Regions from separate parts of the Homo sapiens genome. Here region 2 is linked to region 1. The links come from fine-mapping of genetic effects on gene expression. A gene starts in region 1. The other region holds a variant in brackets. All regions are shown on one strand. Distances are from middle to middle.

Region 1 (10,475 bases):
GTTCTTGAACTTGACCCTGCTAGTTTACATTATGCTGCATTTTAACTGCACCACTGGGCTAGCAAAAAAAACGTCCACAAAAAGCACATGGATTTTATAACTCACCCTGAATAATTAAGGACATCTGTTTTTTGCTATAAACATTTTTTGAAAGCCTAAACATGAAGCACTGGTCCAATTCATTAATATTTTGGAATAAATTTAATTACTATATATTATAATAAAATGAGCTGTGTGTTTTTTTGTAGTTAAAAAAACCAGCATTTTCACATTATCAGTTAAAACCACATTAGAAAGTACATTTTAAAAATTGAAAGTGAGTTTATTGAAAATAAACTTGTTACTGGGTATTCTAGCAGAGAAAATCCCTTGAATATCTATGAATGCATTTTTAAGAGTTAAAAGAATCACATACCTTGGCAACCATTTGCTAATTTTGAAAGTATTCCCAAGTGTTTATATACTATATTTATTTAAATTGGCCATATGATTTTAATTGGTTTCACTGTGGTAGAATTAGCTTCATTGAAGTAGATGTACTCTCCTACAAGCTGAATAGCAGCCCTGTGTAGCACAGATTTCCAACATAAACTATAATTCATAAAGGCCAACACAACTCTTTTCTTTGTAGCTGGGTAACCATTTATGTTTGAGGTGAAGATGTTAATATGGAAATTTTGTGAGCTAGGAAAGAGGATGAACGCTATCACTCTAATTTATGACCTTTCATATAAGGCCAAATGTAAAGGCAACTTCAATTGTTTTATATCTCAGGGCCAGCACATAGCAGATGTATGAAATTTGGAGTGTTAGACATAAACTTTTATTACCAAATTATAAATAATTTCTCCCACTTATAATGTTCACCTTTCAAGTTCATCTTGATTAAAATACAAGGGCAGCTTCACACCGATTTCACTAAATTTTACAGCTGAGAGAGGTTTTCTAGAGTTCACGGTGGAGTATAAAGCATCACAGCATTTGGGAGATTCTCCTTCCAGGAGCTCAGACTCTGATCCTATCTCTTTTAAAATTCAAGTCATGCCAAAATGATGGCTGATGAAGTCCGAACATTATTTAAACATCTCACATGTTACATCTGAAACCAAGCGCCCATGATGTAGAATATATCACTTCCTTGGGTAAGCAAAACGACATACTACTTTTTCTGAGAAATTTGCCCACCAGTCAATGAGCTTGTATCACTTCTTAGAAGGTATTCAACAACCAGAGAGTGTCTGTCTGTTTCCTTATTTTCTTTTTTCCCCTCCCTCCCTCTTTCTTTTCCTTCTTTCTTTTTCTTTCTTTCTTTCTTTCTTTCTTTCTTTCTTTCTTTCTTTCTTTCTTTCTTTCTTTCTTTCTTCTTTCTTTCTTTCTTCCTTCTTTCTTTCTTTCTTTCTTTCTTTCTTTCTTTTTTCCTTCTTCTTTCTTTCTTTCTCTCTTTCTTTCTTCATTTAAGAAACAGTCTCGCTCTATCATCCAGACTGGAGTGCAGTGGCATGATCTCATCTCACTGCAACCTTAGCCTGTCGGGTTCAAGAGATTCTCATGCCTAGCCTCCCAGGTAGCTGGGATTACAGGCATGTGCCACTACACCCAGCTAATTTTTTAATTTTAAGTAGAGACGGGATTCAACATCTTGGCCAGGCTGGTCTTGAACTCCTGACTTCAAGTGATCCGCCAACCTTGGCCTCCTAAAGTGCTGGGATTACAGGTGTGAGCCACTGCCCCCGGCCTCTCTTCATTTTCTATAACAAATAATTTTCATATCCCATGATTAAAGGCAGATAATGGTGGCCCCAAGTATCCAAAACTAGCACATCACAGCTTATGAGCTCCTATTGTACAGTCTGAAGGTCCAGGAAAGGTTCAGGTCCATGCCAGCACTTCATACCAGTTAATGCATTGCTCCAACAAGACCAGCCAGTATTCTTGGAAGCTTAACATCCATGTTACATATTAAAATCTGCTTTGGAGAGTGTTGGTCAATCCAATTACATGTTTGTATTTATCATCATCATCATCATCATCAACAACAACCACAACAACATCACAATACATTCATCTACATGTTCACAGGGCTGTTGGGTGTTTAATAAGCTAGACATGAGACCATCTTTTATGAATATGAAACATTGAAGGACATAGTTATTTAAAGGCATATGTACTATAGAACTGTAGAAGGGACAAACAATGAAGTGGCAAGAGTTCTCTTAGCATTTATATATCTGCATTTGTCTATTTTAAGCATAATAGCTTCAAGAGAATGAAAAGACAAGCCATAAACTGGGAGAAAATATTTGTAAAACACATATCTGATAAAGAACTATTATTCAAAATATACAAAGGACTCTTAAAACTCAACAAAAAGAAAGAACAAACTGATTCAAAATTGGGCCAAAGACCTGAACAACCAAAGATATACATATGGCAAATAAGTATATAGAAAGATCCTCCATATCATATGTCACTAGGGAATTACAACTTTAAACAACTATGAGATAGTCACTAAGCAGCTATTAGACTAGTCAAAATCCAAAGGACTGGAAGCACCAAATGCCCATGAGGATGTGGAACAATGGAAACTCTCATTCACTCCTAGTGGGAATGCAAAATGGTACAGCCACATTGTAAGACAGTTTGGCAGTTTCTTACAAAACTAAACATACCCTTGCTATATGATCTAGCAGTCATACTCCTTGATATTTGCCCAAATAAGCTGAAAACTTATTTCTATACAAAAACCTGCATACACATATTCATAGCAGCTTTATTCATAACTTCCCAAACTTGGAAGCAACCAAGATGTCCTTCTGTAGGTAAATGGATAAATAAACTGTGGTACATCCAAATAATGGAATATTATTCAGAACTTAAAAGAAATGAGTTGTCAAGCCATGAAAAGGCGCAGAGGGGTCTTAAATGCATATTTCTAAGTGAAAGAAGCCAGTCTGAACAGGCTACACAGTGGGGTGGTGCAGTGTATGCACCACTAACTGTGTACGGTATGATTCCAAATATATGATATTGTGGAAAAAGGCAAAACTTTGGAGACAGAAAAAAGATCAGCGGTTGCCAGTGGGGAGGAAGGGATAAATAGGTGGAGCACAGAGAATTTTTAGGGCAGTGAAACTATTCTGTATGATACTGTAATTGTGGGTACATTTCATTATGCATTTGTCAAAACCTATAGAATGTGCAACACCAAGAGTGAACCCTAATGTAAACTTTGGCCTTTGGATGATAATGATGTGTCAGTGTAGGTTCATCAGTCCTAACAACTAAATGAAACTAAACTACATAAGTTAAACTAAAGCTTGCCAAAATATTTTTATGACTTTAAGGCTCCTTAATAAATTAATGTTTACATTCAGGGTTTTGAAGACTAGTATTCACCAAAAGTCTTGCAGTGTTTTCTTTGCATCATAAAAGATGCTGAAAGCAAAAACCTGGGAAATACGGAAAATTGCCTTGTGAGTTAGTAAAAGTCATTTATAAGCTGCTGAGGGGCTTTTGGGAACAGCCACACTTTTTATAAGCTTGTTAGCTCATGAATTAATTCAGGATGCCCACCCCGTGTGTCAAACTGGGCCCTTACCCAGCTACTCCCCTTAGAGAAGGTTGCAGCTGCTCAGCAGATGAACTAGGCCCTTAAAACTCCTCATGGCTCCCTACCCACCACACTAGTGTTAACGGCTCGATTAGGGCTCTGTAGGAAAGGGAAAGAAGTTTGAATCAAAAATTTTCTTTTTTTTTTTAATAATTTAAACAATCAGTAAGGAATGTGCAATTTGATGTCGTTTGCAAAGAAAGTTTTTAGGAACAGGGCTTTTTATCCTATTATGTTTGTTCTTTGCACGTAATTATTTGATTTAAATGGTACTTTTCTTAAAATTTTTATTTACATTGTATTTTATATTGCAAGAACTTCAAATACAGCCCTCACAATAAATCAGTAACTGTTCGGTCTTTATCCAAACTGAACTTTTATAGAAGGATATAAGGAAGTCTCTATTCTTTAACAAATCATATCCAGTTGTTTTCTGTCCCTGATATCAATCAAAAGTTCATTTCTTCTGCCTTTAACCAAAAGAAGTTTACAAGGGAGGAACTCTTTATCTTCGAAAAAAATTTTGCATCTTAGATTTTATAACACCTAATGGGGTTAAGGATCTGTGTTGAAAGATCTTATCACTCTGTGTATAGTGTTACAAATCATAAATATAATTAAAGTATAAGTTTTCAACTGATGAGAGTATATGTGGAGGGGGAAAAACGAATCAAGTCCTGGTGTAACAGTTCTCTTCTTTTTCCCTTTCAATTCCATTAATAGAAAGAGTATTGAGAATTCATGCAAAATTCCAAACCAAGTTCCCATAGTAGCACTGAAATAAGTCTGCACACCATTTCCAATAGGAACTAGTAATGTAACACAATTAATGTCATTATAATTTGGAGTTACTTGAGTGATTTTGATTATTTTTGTATCAATTAACATTGCCATGGAAACAGTCTCTTGCTAAAATGGCTTAAGTCTTCACACATTTAATCAATATCCAGAGGTAGATTTAAAGACTTGAGGTGTTTCATTTATTTATTTATTTGCTTTAAACTATTCAAGGACGTTTCTGGGTACACAATGCCGTTACTTAAACAGTAAATTCCAGTTTCCTATGACTTCAAGTTATTTTTTACACTTCTGTAAATAAATCCTGCCCAAAAGATCACTTCTAGTTTCCTGGAATTTTGTTTTTGTTTTGTATTGTATTTGTTTTGTACTCAGATTTCTGTTAGAGGAACTCCACTGCACCAATTTTGCTACTAGACAAACCAGGAATCTTGGATTTGCGCGCTTTGGTGCTGACAGGCTTTTTCGGCCCCAGCGGGCTGCCGTAGCAGAGAAGAGCACTGATTGGCTGAGGCAGAAAAGTGCCCCTGCCTCGGCGCTTTCGGTTTTGGCTGGGATCATCCGCGGCGGCCGGGCTCGTGGGGCGCCTGGAGTGAGGGTTCTGGTTCCCGCCGGCGAGGTGAGCCGCACCGCTGCGCGGGCCGACGACGGGGCCGGGCGCAGCCCCAGGTTCGGTGCCCCAGTGTTCAGTCGCGCTGTGGAGCGGCGGCTGCAGCGGCCCTAGGCCGGGCGAGGCAGCCCCGGAAAGGGCCTGCGGTGAACAGGCTGGGGCTCCGGGAAGGGACCGCTGGGTGGCGGGTCCCCGCGAAATGCCGCGTCCAAGCTCTCCGCGCATGGAATGGCTGGGAGAGGTCTGATGGTGGGCGCCGGGACCGCCCTCAGCGAGGCGCCTAGACTGCGCGGAGAGGAGCGGCACCGTCCCGGCTCCTACCGAGTTGGCGTCCGAGATCAATTCAGGTTGTTGAAGTTCCCCAGGGAGCCCCGACGCTAATCCCAAGATTCGGCGGGAAAGCGGATCCCGAACCCAGGCCTAGGCTTCGCCTGTCTTCCAGGAGGGCTTCAGGGAATTGCGAACCCTCTCCTACATCGGGGTGGCTGCGCCTGACCACAGGAATTAAAGGCTGGACTCGCCTGTCTTACCAAGTTGTCAGGTCGAGGAACCCGATTGTATGGTCTTAAGTCCTATCGCCCAAGGTTTTCTGTGCGTATGCGTGTCCGCACACCTGCATAGCAGGCATTTTTAAGGTGTGTAGGATTAAGATGATGCGGATTACCCTGCCCCACTGCTCTTAGTAATACGTGACTATTGTAGAAAATTGCAAACATAGAAGACTTTAGTGAAGAAAATAATATTCACTGAACCCTTTCACCTACGATCATTTTCTCTTGTATGTGCTAGCTTCTACTTGAACTAAGAGTGTACATGTTTAATCACTTAACAGTGTAGTTTTCCACTTCCATTTAAAAACTCTTCCTAAATATTATTCTAATTTTGTATCTTCTTTTGATTGTCCTATCATTGTGGGTCCCAGTTTAGGTCCCGTAAATTATTCAGTCATTTCCCGATTGTGGGACATTAGATTGTTTTTGAATTTTTACATCATCTTAGCATCCCAGATAGTGCTTTGATAAACTCTTTTCCCCCTATTTTTTAGATTATTTCCTTGGACTAGATTCTCAGAAGTGAAATTATCAGATTAGATGCTGTCATCTGAAAGGTCTGTTTTAGGCCTTCATACACATTGCTGCAGTGTTTTCCAAAAAAGTTTTAGAGATGTTTGGTAATTTTACTTGCTTAAATATTGTGCAGAAATCTTGAGAGGCTTGTGTTTGTGGTGTGTGTGTGTGTGTGTGTGTCACTGGCGTTAATGCGTTAGACTACCTGAATGTTAGGGCAGGAAGAGACTTAAGTGGTCATCTGGCATAACTCCCTTATATTGCAGATGAGGAACCTGGGGCCATGAGAAGTGAAATTATGAGTTATCCAAGTCACACAGCTAATTAAGTAGCAGAGCTGGGATTAGAACTCAGGTTTCCTGCCTCCCAAGTGAGTACTCTGTGCTGTATCAGGCAGTCTCTCACTGAACTGTGGCATAGTAGATACTAGAATTTAAAAATTTGTTTACATCACCTGGGTTATTCTCTCCTTTTAAAAGTGTACTAACAGATTTTAATCATCGGAGAGACCTGTAACACTGAAAAATTGGAAAGTGATCATTTTCATGGCCAAGACTAGAAATCCATTATTTAGAATGGCAACCCCTTCAAGATTTTGACAGTTGTTTTCAGGTTCCCTATATGTTAGAATAAAACACCCCTGATTAATTATAACCTACACTCCATCATTTGGTTAGAATGTAGCTTTTGGTTATCATTTGCGGTACCTTGGAGATTTCTTTAAAACTCCTCACTTTAAAACCAAAGAACAATTTTTTTTATTTTTATTTATTTTTATTTATTTTTTTATTTAGGGCTTATAGCAGAGATTGTCAACTTCCATTGACATTTTGTGCTGGGCAGTCCTTTGTTGTGGAGGGCCGTCCTGTTAGTTGTAAAATGTTTAGCAACATCCCTGGTCTCTACCCACTAGGATAGCAGTAGCACCACCTTCCTCAGTCATGACAGTTCAGTGTCCCCAGATATTTCCAAGTGTCCCTGAGCAGGGTGGGGCAGGGTTGGGGGTACTGCCCCTAGATGAGAACCATTTGCTTATAGAAATTATCTGGAGAACTTTATAAAATGTAAAATACAGTGCCTTTACCTGAGTAGACTTCGGGAAAATCTGCATTTTAACAAGCATCTCTAGATTTGGAAACAGCTGGTTCTTGAATGACACAAACAGTTGTTTTCTCAGTTTTTGGTGCTCATAATAGAGATTACTTGGTTAGTATTTGTTGAAGTACATGCATGATCCTACTGGTCACTGTATCCATAGTTTGGGCTGATGGGGGCTGGACAGGGATTTTGCTTGGCACTGGCCTTGAATGTCTCTTCCACAGACTTGGGTAGTGTGCTTAGGTACCAGGGACACCAAGTGAGTAAGATATTTTCCCTGTCCCCAAGAAGCTTTAAATTCGCACGGGAGACCAGTCAGCAAATGGAAAAATTACGAAACAGCCTGATAAGGGCCATGACTGAGAGTGGAAAGAGGTGCTCTGAGTGGACTCACTTCGCCTTTGGGAGAGAGGGAGAGAAGTAGCCCCTGCTGCCGAGGAAGGAGGGATTGGTATGAAGCCTTCAAAAGACAGCGAGGAACTCCACTGTGTCCGAAGGGAGGATTTAGAGAGCTGTTCTTCTGCCTATCTGATCGCCTCCTCAGACACTGATCTATTAGTCTAGTGCTGCAATTACTTGGATTGTAATGTTTCCTTGCAATTTTTGCTTTTCAAATTCTTTTCACCCTAAACTGTAAATACGCCAGGAGTAGGTAAAAACTTACAGGTAAACATTGCCAAGAAATAAGGATTTTCATGTCTTCTGCTCAGTGGCATAACTCAAATCACATGAGATAGATTTCTTTGCATCTGTCCATTGTATTTCTCTGAGGCTAATTTACAGCACTTTGTCACGTTAGGTATTTTTTTTCCCCAGTGCTGCTACTCTCCAACTGGATTTCTCACCGCCTCTATTGCGATTCCCCAAGATTTAACCAGAGAATCTTAACATATTCAGAAGGGCAGCTGTACCTGTGAAAGGGCTTGGGCTTTGGGGTCAGCCTTGGCTTTGCTTTCCACCTCACAGGGTTTCTCTGTAAATTGCTTATGAATCTAACTCTGGTAGCACATAGTTGGGTTAATAAAAGTTCTTTTTTTTCTTCATTCTTTTACCAAAAAGAAAAAAATTCCCTGCAGGGCACTTTGCAGATGTTTTCATACTAGACCTCTCAGTAGCTTCTGACAGAAAATATACTGCCTTTGACTTAATAGTCATTTATGAAAATAGGTCATTTAAAACAAGCCTGAGTAGGAGTCAGGGGAGGGAGAGGAGGTATAGAGAGTGATTATGACTTTAATTTTGAAAGGAGAAGTTTTACCAGGGTGACCCTGAAGAAAGGTCTTTTTCCTCTTATGTGTTTATGGTTCAAGAGACTCATCTCTTGCTTCAGAAATTGTCAGAACTGTTTCTTCTGCTTTATCCAATTTAAAAGATGAAAACTTAAAATTACTTGAGCCAAGTGATGGGAAAAATTGTGGTGTCAAGACCAATTTACTCATACAAAATGGATTTATGGGCAAGTCATTAAGTAACAGGGAGTAGCAAGGAAGCCTAATGAAGACTAATGTAAAAGATACGGCTTTCCTAAAGTGATGGATAAAATGTGTTTGAGGCAACCCATATACTCTTTTCCAAATAACCTTAGAAGTATTTTTTTTCCAAGAGGTTTAGTAGAATGTAGATATTCTAGAGAACAGATGAGAAGCTTGTGAGCCCCTCTTGTCATGTGGCTTACAGTATTTTGAGGGAGAAAAGACCCACATAAAGAATACAAAAGAGGGCATAGTGACAGGTTATAGCAAATAAAATCAAATGCCAAACTATGTGATGCCAAAAGTAGGTGAGATGGGCATCTGCACTCTGCTATGGAAAGTAGAGAGTGGAACCCAAGCAAGTTCCTGCTTAAAACCCCTGTTTCCTATCATTGACAACAGTATTTCCCCTTGCCAGTTATTTCCTAGGCTTGTTCAAATAGATTGCTGGCTCCTACCCCAGAACTACTGAGTAGAATCTCCAGCTGATCCTAATGATTCAAGTTTGGGAAACTGACCCAGAGCCTCAACTCTGTGCTCCCTGTGAATGTGGCACAGCTCCCTGCCGCAGAGGCGTCTCCTCCTTGCCTATGTAGATTTTACGTTCTACCCAGACACTTGTTCCGTGCCTTTTCTGACTTCTCTTCTTTCAGCTAGGGGGTGACGCCTTTTCCTTCAAATTCAGCTCAGGTGTTAACTTCCAGAAATTCTTTGATCTGCCAAGCCTGGGGTAAGAGAGTGTTCTCTGCCCTTTTGTGCATAATTCTATCAGAATACACATCACCTTTGTAAAATTCTGCATTTACATGTTTCTTGCCCTCTCTGGAATGTAAACTCTGAGGGCTTAAGGCCTTGTCTTTGTGTTACATTCCCCAACCCTGTGCGCCTGAACTTGACAGGTGCTCCGTGAAAGTTGGAAGTGTTGATTGCCTTCAGGAAGAGATTGATGTTAATTGGAATACAGATAAAGCATAATGGACAAGGCGTTATCTTTGGTGAGCTTAGAAGAACATATCTGTGTTTATAAAAAGGTGTGGAAAGTTAATATTAATAATACTTTTAAAATAACCTATACTGTCAAGCAACTGATAGTCAAGATTTGCATTCTTTTTTCTGACAGTTATTAACTCTTTCCAGCTTTTGCTTTTCAAATGTTTTTAATCTGAAACTGTAAATACTCTATGAGCAGATGAAATTAGTAATAATTAAAGTAGTTAATATCTCCATGAACTAGAATCACATTACAAAGCATTTTAGTGATTTTTAACACAAAATAGCTACTTTTATCTCAGTTTTATACATAATGAAACTGTGGCATAATGGGATTTAGCATCTGTGATAGGAAATGCACCTGACTCATCAGTTGAGTATCAGGCCTTCAGAGTTAATATTCTCTCTAGATGTGTTCAGCCTCAAAACAGCATGTATTCAAAATGTAAATAAGGCGGTTTATAGATGAATGGGAAGATTTGTGTATTTTCACTAAACTCATTAAAGGTACTGAATCTGTTACAGTATTTATTTTGTATTTTTTCACTTTGTACTCAGAACAGTGTAAATAAAATTACTGTGTGATCTGAGTCCTGAATGAAAAGTGGTTGTCCTGAATAGTAGTTGTAATAGTAGTTGTAATTGTAGTTATCTGTTGAGATTGTGGAGCTAATAAAATAAGCTAGAAATTCAGTGGAAAAGTTAAGTTAACATTTGTTGAGCAAAATAATTTATTGCATTTTAAAAACATCTTTCAAACCTTGGGGGCAGTGTAGATTGTCCAAATGATAGCCCAAAATTCAAAGATAATTTCTGAAATTTGTATTTTC
Region 2 (11,495 bases), 150 kb before region 1:
TGACAGGATCTCATTCTTCTTTATGGCTGAATAGTATTCCATTGTGTATATGTACGACATTTCCTTTATCTATTCATCTGCTGATGGGCATTTCGGTTGCTCCCAAATCTTGGCTATTGTGAACAGTGCTGCAATAAACATGGGAGTGCAAATATCTCTTCAATATATTGATTTCCTTTCTTTTGGGTATATACCCAGGACTGGAATTACCAGATAGTATGGTATCTCTATTTTCAGTTTTTGAGGAACCTCCAAGCTGTTCTCCACAGTGGTTGTGCTAATTTACATTACCACTGACAGTTTATGAGGGTTCCGTTTTCTTCACATCTTCACCAACATTTGTTATTGCCTACTTTTGGATGAAAGCCATTCTAACTGGGGTGAGATGGTATCTCACTGTAATTTTGATTTGCATTTCTCTGATGATCATTGATGTTGAGACATCATTGAAAACTATTTGCCACTTGTATATATTCTTTTGAGAAATGTCTATTTAGATTTTTTGCCTGTTTTAAAATCAGATTATTGGAATTTTTCCCATAGAGTTGTTTGAGCTCCTTATCTATTCTGGTTATTAATCCCTTGTCAAATGGGTAGTTTGCAAATATTTTCTCCCATTCTGTGGGTTGTCTCTTTACTTTGTTGATTGTTTCCTTTGCTGTGCAGAAGTTTTTTAACTTGATGTGATTCCATTTGTCCATTTTTGCTTTGGTTGTCTGTGCTTGTGGGGGTATTCCTTAAGAAATCTTGGCCCACTCCACTGTCCTGGAGAGTTTCCCCAATGTTTTCTTAATAGTTTCATAATTGGAGGTTTTAGATTTAAGTCTTTAATTCATTTTTATTTGATATGGCAAGAGATTAAGTCTAGTTTCATTCTTTTGCATATGAATATTCAGTTTTTACAGCACCATTTATTGAAGAGACTGTCCTTTCCTCAAAGTATGTTCTTGGCATCTTTGTCTAGTGAGTTCACTGTAGTTATATAGATTTATCTCTGGGTTCTTAATTCTGTTCCACTGATCTACGTGTCTGTTTTTATGCCAGTACCCTGCTGTTTCGGTTACTATACCTCTGTACTATGATTTAAAGTCAGTTAATGTGATTCCTTCCATTTTGTTCTTTTTGCTTCATATGGCTTTGGCTATTCTGGGTCTTTTGTGGTTCCACATACATTTTAGGATTATATTTTCTATTTCTGCGAAAAATGTCATTGGTATTTTCATAGGGTTGCATTAAATCTGTAGATTGCTTTGGATAGTATGGACATTTTAACAATATTGTCTCTTCCAATTTATAAACATGGAATATTGTTCCATTATTTGTGTCCTCTTTAATTTCTTTCATCCACATTTCATAGTTTTCATATAGTCTTCTCTCTTCTTAGTCTGACTAAACATTTGCCACTTTAGTTTACCTTTTCAAAAAACCAACTTTTTGTTTTGTTGATCTTTTGTATTGTTTTCTGTGTTTCAATTCTTTTCTTCTACTCACTTTAGGTTTGGTTTGCATTTGCTTTCCTAGTTTTTTAAGACGCATCATTAGGTTATTTATTTGACTTTTTTCTTCTTTTCTGATGTAGGCACTTATAGCTATAAACTCCTCCCTTAGTACTGCTTTAGCTGTATCCCATAAGTTTTGGTATGTTGTGTTTCCATTATCATCTGTTTCAAGAAATTTTTCAATTTCCTTTAAAAATTTGTCTTATTGACCCATTGGTCATTCAGAAACATATTTAATTTCCATAGCTTGTATAGTTTCCAGAATTCCTCATGTTATTGATTTCTAGTTTTATTCCATTGCAGTCAGAGAAGATGCTTGATATGATTTCAAAGTTTTTGAATGTTTTAAGACTTGTTTTGTGACCTAACATATGATATATCCTTGACAATGATCCATGTGTTGAGGAGAAGAATGTGTATTCTGCAGCTGTTGCATAAAATGTTCTGTAAATATCTATTAGGCCCATTTGGTCTATAGTGCAGATAAAGTTTGAAGTTTCTTTGTTGATTTTCTGTCTGGAAGATCTGTCCAATACTGAAAGTGGGGTATTGAAGTCTCCAGCTATTATTGTATGGGAGTCTCTCTCTCTTTAGTTCTAATAATATTTGCTTTATATATCTGGATGCTCCAGTATTGGGTGCATATATATTTACAATCCTTATATCCCCTTGCTGAATTGACCTCTTTATTATTATATAATAACCTTCTTTGTCTCTTCTTATAGTTTTTGTCTTGAAATCTATTTTTTCTGATGTAAGTATAGCTGGTCCTGCATTTTTGTGGTTTTCTTCGGAATGGAATACCTTTTTCTATACCTTTATTTTCAGTCTACATGTGTCTTACAGGTGAAGTCTGTTTTTTGTAGATAACAGATCATTGGACCTTGTTTTTAAAATCTTTTCAACCACTCTATGTCTTTTGATTAGAGAGTTTAATTCGTTTATAGTCAATGTTATTATCAATAAGTAAGGGCTTACTCTAGCCATTTTGTTGTTTATTTTCTGGTTGTTTTGTGGTCTTCTCCTTCTTTCCTTCCATTCTGTCTTTCTTTTAGGGAAGGTGATTTTCTATGATGGTATAATTTAATTTTTTGCTTTTCATTTTTTGTGTATTTATTGTATTATTTTATTTGAGCTTACTACAAGGCTTGTAAATACTGTCTTATAACCCATTATTTTAAGCTGACAAAAACTTAACACTGTTTACATAAACAAACAAGGAAAAAGAAAACTAATAAAAACTCTATGCTTTAACTTTGTCTCCCTGCTTTTTAACTTTTTATTGTTTCTATTTATATCTTATTGTATTGTCTACATCTTGAAAAGTTGTGGCTATTATATTTGATTGATTCATTGTTTTGTCTTTCTACTTAGATAAGAGTAATTTACACACCACAGTTATAAACACGCAGTGTTATAATTGTCTGTGTGTTTTCAGTGTACTTACTATTACCAGTGAGTTTTGCACTCATTATTCATTATGTCCTTTTCTTTCTCAGTGAAGTATTTCCTTTAGCATTTCTTATAGGACAGGTCCTATAATGATGAAATCCCTCAGCCTTTGTTTGTCTAGGGACATCTTTATTTCCCTCATGTTTGAAGGGTTTTTTTTTGTTGTTGTTTTATTGTTTTTTTGTTTTTTGTTTTTTTGTTTTTTTTTGGCCAGATATACCATTCTAGGGTAAAATGTTTTTCCTTCAGAACTATAAATATGTCATGCCACTCTCTCCTGGCCTGTAAGGTTTTCATTGAAAAGTCTGCTGCCAGATATATTGGAGCTTTATTGTATGTTATTTGTTTCTTTCCTTTTGCTGCTTTTAGGATCCTTTCTTTAACCTTGACAATTGGAAGTTTCATTATTAAATGCTTTGTGGTCATCTTCTTTGGGTTAAATCTAGTGAGTGTCCTATAACCTTCTTGTTCTTGGACATTGATGTCTTTCTCTAGGTTTGGGACTTTCTCTGTTCTTATCCCTTTGAATAAAATGTATACCCCTGTCTCTTTCTCTACCTCTTCTTTAAGGCAAATAACTCTTAGATTTTCCTTTTTGATGCTATTTTCTAAATGCTGTGGGTTTGCCTTATTATTTTTTGTTCTTTTTTCTTTTGTCTCTTCTGACTGTGTATTTTCAAATAGCCCGTCTTTAAGCTCAGTAATTCTTTCTTCTGCTTGATTGTTTCTGTTATTAAAAGACTCTGAGGCATTCTTCAGTGTGTCAATTGCATTTTTCCACTCCAGAATTTCTGCTTTATTCTTTCTAATTACCTTAATCTCTTTGTTAAATTTATCTGATAGAATTCTGAATTCCTTCTCTGTATTATCTTTAATTTCTTTTGAGTTTCCTCAACACAGCGAATTTGGATTCTCTGTCTGAAAGGTCACATATCTCTATTTCTCCAGGATTGGTCCTTGGTGTGGTGTTTTATTTAGTTTATTTGGTGAGATCATGACCTCACCATGGATGGTCTTGATGCTTGTGGATGTTCATCTATGTCTGTGCATAGAAAAGTTAGGTATTAATTGTAGTCTTTGCACTCTGAGCTTATTTGTTCCTGTCTTTCTTGGGAAGGTTTTCCAGCTATTTGAAAGAATGTAGGTGTTCTGATCTAACCCATATCTGCATTACAGGGCACCCCACACCCAGTGACATTGTGTTTCTTTCAGACTTGTAAAGGTACTGCCTTGATGGTCTTAGATAAGATCGGGAAGAACACTCTGGATTACCAGGCAGAGACCCTTGTTTTCTTCCTTTCACTCAAACAAATAGAGACTCTTTCTCTCTGTTCTGAGACACCTGGGGCTGGGGCTGGGGTGACACAAACACCCCCATGACAACCACCACTGGGACTGTACTAGGTCAGACCTGAAACCAGCACAGCACTTGATTTTGCCCAAGGCTCACTGTAACTACTACCTAGCTGCCACCTATGTCCACTCAAGGCCCTGATGATGTACAGTCAGCAGGTGGCAAAGGAGATAGGCTGGTGTCTTTCCCTTCAGGATGCTGAGTTTCCTTAGGCCCCA[A/G]GCAGGTCCAGAGGTGCCATCCAGGAACCAGGGCCTGACATCAAAAACCTTAGAAGTCTATCTGGTGCTATATTGCACAATAGCTGAGCTGCCACTCAACTCACAAGATGCAGTCCTTCCCACTCTTCCCCCACTTTCCACAGGCAGAGGAGCCTCACCTCATGGCTACCACCACAGGCCCAAAGGGAGTACCCCCAGGCTACTGCCAATATCTCCCTTAAGGCCTAAGGGTTCTTCAGTCACTTTGTGGTGAATGCTGCCTGGCCTGTGACTCTTCAGGGCTGTGGGCTCCCTCTGGTCCAGGGAAGGTCCAGATATGTTATTCAAAAGCCAAGGCCTAGAATCAGGGACCCCAAGAACCCACTTGGTGATCTACTCTACTGTGGCCAAGCTGGTACTTCAGGTGCAAGACAAAGTCCTCTTTACCTTTCCTTCACTTTTCTCAAGCAGGAGGAGTTTCTGCCCATAGCCACCACAGCTGGAAATGTACTGAGTCTTACCTGAAGCCAGCAAGTCTCAGAGTCTCACCCAAGGCCTACGGCATACTACCTGGGTATTACTGCTAATTGTTCAGGGCCCAAGGGTTCTTTAGTCAGCAGGTGATGAATCCTTCCAGGACTCGGTCCTTCCCTTCAAGGCAGCAGGTTCTCTTCTGGCCCAGGGTGTGTCTAGAAATGTCCTGAAACTAAGGCCTGGATGGAGGCCTCATAACTCTGACTTGTGCTCTATCCTAATGTGGCTGAGCTGGTATCAAGATGCAAGACAAAGTCCTCTCCATTCTTTGTTCTCCTCCCCTCAAACAGAAGGGAGGGGTCTCTTTTGGAGCTGTGAGCTGTGCAGACACCTGAAAGGTGTCTCCCTAGGTCACATGCCCCTCAGTTCACTGGCTCAGAGCCCAGTTCAGCCCTAGGACTTGCCTATGAGTTGCAGTCCTTGTGGCCCAGACTGCCTTTTGAGTTTATTTAGGACTCCAGAGCACTTTAGCTCACGGTGGAAAGCCTTGCTGGAACTCAAGTTCTGACCACTGGGATGGGCGATGCTCCTCTGCTTAGGACTGGTTTAAATACTTCCTCTGTGGGCAGGTGTCAGAGGAGTTCAGCTCAGTTTTGCTTTCTGTTGTGACAGAGCACTACTGTGTTCAATGCAATGTCTCACAATTGCTGTGCTCTCCTTCTCCCAAGCACACAGATTTCCTCTCCACACCACATGGCCACTGCTGGGGCTGGGGGAGGAGAGGTGTCAGCAATTCAAGACTGTCTCCTATTCGCCTCACTACCTCATTCAGTGATATGAAGTTAAAACCAGGTACTGTGAATGCTCACCTGATTGTTGGTTCTTATGAAGGTGTTTTTTGTGTGTAGATAGTTGTTAAATTGTTGTCCTTGGGGGAGGGGAGATATTGGTGGAGGCTTCTATTTTGTCATCTTGCTCTGCACCTTCTCCTCAAAGCATTCTTAATTGAATGAAACATGACCAAATGATCACCTCATCTGGGATCTTCCCTCCACGCCTCCAGGTTATTAATGTATCATGTGTATTTGCAAATTATTTTATTGTACGTATCCCCCAGAGCTATATTAATTGCTTTCTCATTTATCTGCTAGGTATTGAGCTTGGAAGTGCAGGGCCAATGTCTTGTTTCTCCTGAATATTTAGCATCATTCCAGGTCCATACTCAATACTCAAAAAATGATTGTTGAGTGAAGGGAAGACATAGTCTCCCCTCTGTGACAGACACTGATTGTTGTCTTTCCCCTGCCGCCTGTCCCCATAGCCATACTATCCTCTGGCTGCAGCACTCTTCCTATCCTGCTCTATCCCTAATGTGCCCACTCTCCTTTCCCCCTCATTCCCCAGAGCACCACTACCATAGGGTATTGGGTATAGTCACTTAAGTGTAAGCCTGTCACGCTCAGTAAGAGTTTCAGAGTGATGCATGGAGATTTTAGCATAGCTGAGAACAGAGTACAACTTAAAATGAAGTTCCATATTAGACATCACCATCTGAAATTCTTCAGTGATTTGTACCATGGAGTATCTCATATTGGTTGTCTTTCTCTGCAGGGCCTGGCCTGCTGCCATTTTCTCTCTCAATTTCTCTCTCTTTCCCATTCTTTCTCTCTCCCCCCAGAAACCTCCTTTTCTTCTCCTTCATTTTAGAACACACTATCTGTATTTCCTCACTTCATTATGTAAATATATTGACAAATTTAATTCTCAAGGTCTTTCCAAATCAGGTCTGGACTTACTTTTGAATCTCAATGGTATCTTGTTAAACAAAAGTGTCATCTAACTCTGATGACACTTGGCACAAGGTTTTCGTTTATTTGTTTGTTTGTTTTGAGACAGTCTTGCTCTGTTGCCCAGGCTGGAGTGTAGTGGCACAATTATAGCTCAATGTAACCTTGACCTCCTGGGCTTAAGTGATCATCCAACCTCAGCCTCCCAAGTAGCTAGGACTATAGGCACATGCCACTGCATCCAGTTAATTTTTAACATTTTTTGTCTATATGGGGTATCACTACATTGCTAAGACTGGTCTCAAACTTCTGGCCTCAAGCAATCCTCCCGCCTCGGCCTCCCAAAATGCTGGGATTATATGCATGAGCCACTATGCCCAGCTCTTGGCAGAAGTTTTGAAATTCATTTTTCGTCTACTAATGCAGGTTCTTCAGCAGGGTTTATTGGAACCTGTAATCTGTGGGCTAGAGGTGGAATGGAGGTGGAGCGGTTCTTATTCTTGCTACAGATAAAAAAAACCATGATGATTTATCTTAGAAAAGAAAAAGCTAAGGAACAGTTTAATAGTCTTCAAATAAAAATTTTATTAGTATCTTGAGAGAGGAGAGTGGTGGCTCTGATAATCCTAAATTTATGAACAACTTTGAAATGTGTATGTTTGCACACTTGACTTAGCTAATTTTATAAAGAGTTTGTATTCACCTGGTTTTTGAGAATATGCTATCTAGGTCAGAAAAGGAGATGGTGCTGTGGTAATGTACAGGGTAACAGAGAAACTTAATTTAGGATTACAAAAAATGCCACAATGTGGATAATTAAGAGCTAGCTGTCCAAGAAGAGATATTATGTAATCATTCTTCAACCCCAGGAGCAACAGAAGTGGGACGAGAGAAGAGAAGAGTGAAGAAGCAGAGGTGTTCTGTTTTTACTCTTGTGGTGATAAAATGTTCTGCAATCTCTGCTGAGGGGTTTCCTGTCCCTTTAAGCAAAAGGATCACATCACAAAGTGTTTCCATGCCAGCTTTTGACTATCTTAGTTCACTCAGCTGAAATGATGGCTTTAGAAGCTGGTAGTACAGTGTAGACATACAGAGCCTACTTCAGCCAAGGACAGTGTTCCTTGGAATAGCTTCTACTGAGCTTCTGAGAACTAAACCAAGATACCATGTGCTGAATTCTTCCCCTCACCACCTCCCATATGTTGTTTTCCTGAGGTTGGCATAGAATGAACACACAGCCAGAGAAATAAGAAAAGTAAGACCATCCTGCTGCCCTACAAGAAGAAAAGGCATGATTTAAAAAAACTCAGGTTGTAAGGGCATTTAGAGTACCCTGTTCCCCACAACATACTTGCTACCTCCACCCATGTGTCTGCCAAGGAAAAAAGAACCAGGCTAAATAGTTAATGGAGTGACCTAGGATGTAGCCAAAGTTTAGCTCAGTGTGGGTCTGAACTGGACTCCATCCAAGGCAGCAGGTTTTATAGAGTCTGCAAGAATTAAAGAGAAGACATGAAGGCTACTTTGGGAGTAGAGAGGCAAGGGGATAAGGTAGGTGGGTAGAAAGAAAAGAGTGTGGGAATCACATGACTCATCATGATAATGGCTATCATCAAGGTCTTACCTTTGGTTAGAAGTGGTGGGTACCTAGGTGCTTATGATATTATTAAAAACAATTAAACAAATAGGCAAAAGCAGGTTATAAATGAACCAATGATGGGGATGTGCCATGAATCAAGGACTATGATAAATCCAATGCCAAGCTCCTGAGATCAAAAGGGGAATATGATAGAGATTCATTCTCTTTCATAGTGCCGTTGAGTTTCTGACCCATATGTTAAAACTTCAAAATATTGAAAGGAATTTAGGAGAGAATGCACTGCATTGTCTGTGGCAGGTGATCCTCACAATGAATCTATGAATGTCCAGATGGTGCAATCTCACTCGATCCTCTCAAACAGTCCATGGATTTGGTATTATGTCCATTTCACAGATGAGGGAACCAAAGCTCAGAGAGATTAGATACTGTGCTTGAGGTTGCAGGGATAGGAAATGGTGTCATCAGGTTTATAACCTGGGTCTGCCTCCCGAAGCCTGAGGTAGCTCTCCGTTCTGCCATGTGACAAGTCAGTGGACCTGTGGAGAATGAGTGTTGGGTGGGCAAGAGTGTCATCCCTCCTCTCCCATGGGTCTGAATCTGGTGCCAGGTGTGTGGGCAGTATCTGTACTTTTACAATGATTCTTTCATACACTAAAAGCATAATCATCACCATCATCAGCATCATCATCATCATCACTCCTCCTCCTCCTCCCTCCATATTATGGACAGGCTCAAAATACCCAGTTTCTCAGAAGTCTTTGTTGTGGGTAATAAAAATACTTTTCCTAAAAACCAACTTTTATAAGTTTCTAATGTGAAACAATAGTTAACCCACGTCTCATAATCATCTGTCAGCCACAACATCAAAAACAACAATAATAACAGCAAAATATCACAATAGATATACAGCACTCTCAGGACTTGCAAGATGAAAATATGGTCACAAACTAGACTCAGTCCACAACACAAGGTCTTGTGATCTCTGTTTAGAGTCCTCATTACAGTGTCCTTTCAAATAGCCAGGCTTCAGCCTTTAATAGGTTTTGAAATCAATTTAGTGGGTCTTAGTATTTAAAAAATAGACTTTTGAATTAATCTACATTTTAAGGGTAAGTATTGTTTTGTAAGGTTTTTGTTTCAGTTCTATAGGTGTATATGTGTGTGTATGTGCATGCATATGCACATGTGTGTGCACTGCGTGTACACTTCTTACTGTGGTTATTTATCATAAGGACTTAAAGGCCCTGCTGCTGGGAGCATTAATGAATGCCTCTGAGGAGTTAATGAAAAGGTAGCTGGGAGGGTTCCCTGATCTTGTGCACCCATACAGACCATGAACACCTTCACATGCAGGATTTAAAACCATACTTCACAGGGCTAGAATTAGATATTGAGGCAAATCATGAATGCATGGCACTTTAAAGCAGATGACACCTGGGTATAATTTGGAAGATGAATGGTCAGCTAGGGAGTTGGGCTGGACAGAGCCATTCAGACCAAGTAATTGCAAGAGTTATAAAAGGGTAGGGAATGTTACGCCTTTAGAAATATTGTGGCCTAACTGCTACCTCACTGTCTTTAGATACATTGGGAAAGAATTTCTTCTACTTCTTATAGACAGTAATTATTTATTACTCCTTTTAAGAGTAATTTCACACACAAACACACACACACACACATATATATTTATCTCCAAAGTACCAATAAATAACACCAACAGCAGGAATTTTCATGGTTATTGTCTACTGGGTGTCAGGCACCCTATTAGGTGCTCTCCTGCATTATTTTTAATCCTCTCAAAGACCTTACAAGATTGTTCTTGTGGAAGTTTTACATATCAAAGAAGAGCAGCTATTGGTTTTGAGGAATTAAAGGGAAAGACTAGCTGGTTGTTCATGCACAAGACTCATAGGATTCCATTAACTTGGTGACTTTAACCGTGTCTTTAGCTCTGCAGGTTCAGACACCCACGTTTGTCAACAAGCTGAGAGTTGGTATCTCAGATATGGGTCATGTTATCCAGTGGAGGTGTGGACAACCAAAATGTCTCCTGATTAACCTATGATGACAATAAATGTGACACAGCCTGACCAGCCCATGGGAACTCATAACGCAATTAAAAGTTTGCTTGGTGAATGTTGATTTTAAAAAGGGGATGGTAGGTGACTATACAGGTTTAATTTTATCAGGTAAGAATGGCTTGAAGTGAGGTTACCAACCTTTACCTTTTACCTCAGTAGTTTCTCAGTGAGAAGAACAGACCCAGGGAACTTTTTGACATAAGAGTGATAGGCTCTGCCCCCAAAGCTCCAGTGCTCAGAGCTAGAGACTTCCACTTGGGCTTGAGCTAAAATGCTGGCCTTTGATATCTCATCCAGACTGAAGATAGGGCAGAGCCAACGTGACTTGCTTGCCTGCATGCACTATGAGAAACTGGAGCAGAAGGAAAGCAAAAGGAAGCCTGCTGAGGAGCTGAGGTACGAGGGCCCCGAGACTGGGCAGGCCAATCAAAGAAGGTGAAAGAGTGTGCACAAGCAATGCCCCGACTCCATCACCCCACCTTCTGATATGTAAAGCCAAGTGGTTGGTATGCTGTCTTGAGTCAGATTAGCTACTCTTACCCTGGTGAGAGAAGAATGAAAGGAGGGACAGAGAGACAGCATGCGTCAGTTCACATGTTCCCTAAAATGGTCTGCAAGTTGGATGGGGGGAAGTTCTCTCATCTGGAGCCTGAGGTGGAAATATGGGAAGAAGAATAACAATGTCTACAAAAGGGCAAGCACTGCTCTTGGCCAGGAGATGGGTATCTTTGACCAAGATGCAATTTTTTTTCCCTGAGCTGTTCTTAGATTGACTCATCAGCTTGCTCTGGAACCCCATAAAGGCAGGAGCAGAATTTGTTCATGCTCTTAGCACAGTGCTTAGCAAACTCTCAATGTATGTATGGAATACCTGCTTTTACTTCTCCTTTTTCTTCTTTCATGGTGTCGAACCGTACCTTAAATTGACTATTATTCCTTTAGTTGTTTTATTTTCCTCAATCAGATTACTAGGTTCAACATGACGACTTTGCACATCTCTGCTCCATACAATATGTATTGATTTTGTTGTTTAGCTCTTGGAGGACAACCT

What was found. PIP is the estimated chance that this variant, and not a neighbour inherited with it, causes the effect. A credible set is the group of variants that fine-mapping cannot tell apart.
Region 2: its variant is the best candidate, but not a certain one, in a credible set for the expression of LSM6 in whole blood (INTERVAL, PIP 0.67).

The regions. Positions count from the first base shown.
Region 1 is chr4:146,170,785-146,181,259 of GRCh38, forward strand. It overlaps LSM6 (LSM6 homolog, U6 small nuclear RNA and mRNA degradation associated), which reads left to right and starts at 4,934. Exons shown (of 4, transcript NM_007080.3): 1 at 4,934-5,027. RefSeq lists a silencer at 5,084-5,143.
Region 2 is chr4:146,018,142-146,029,636 of GRCh38, forward strand. No RefSeq gene overlaps it. Among named protein-coding and RNA genes, the nearest start is that of ZNF827, 85 kb to the left of the region's middle. The variant A/G (reference allele first, on the strand shown) is at 4,524.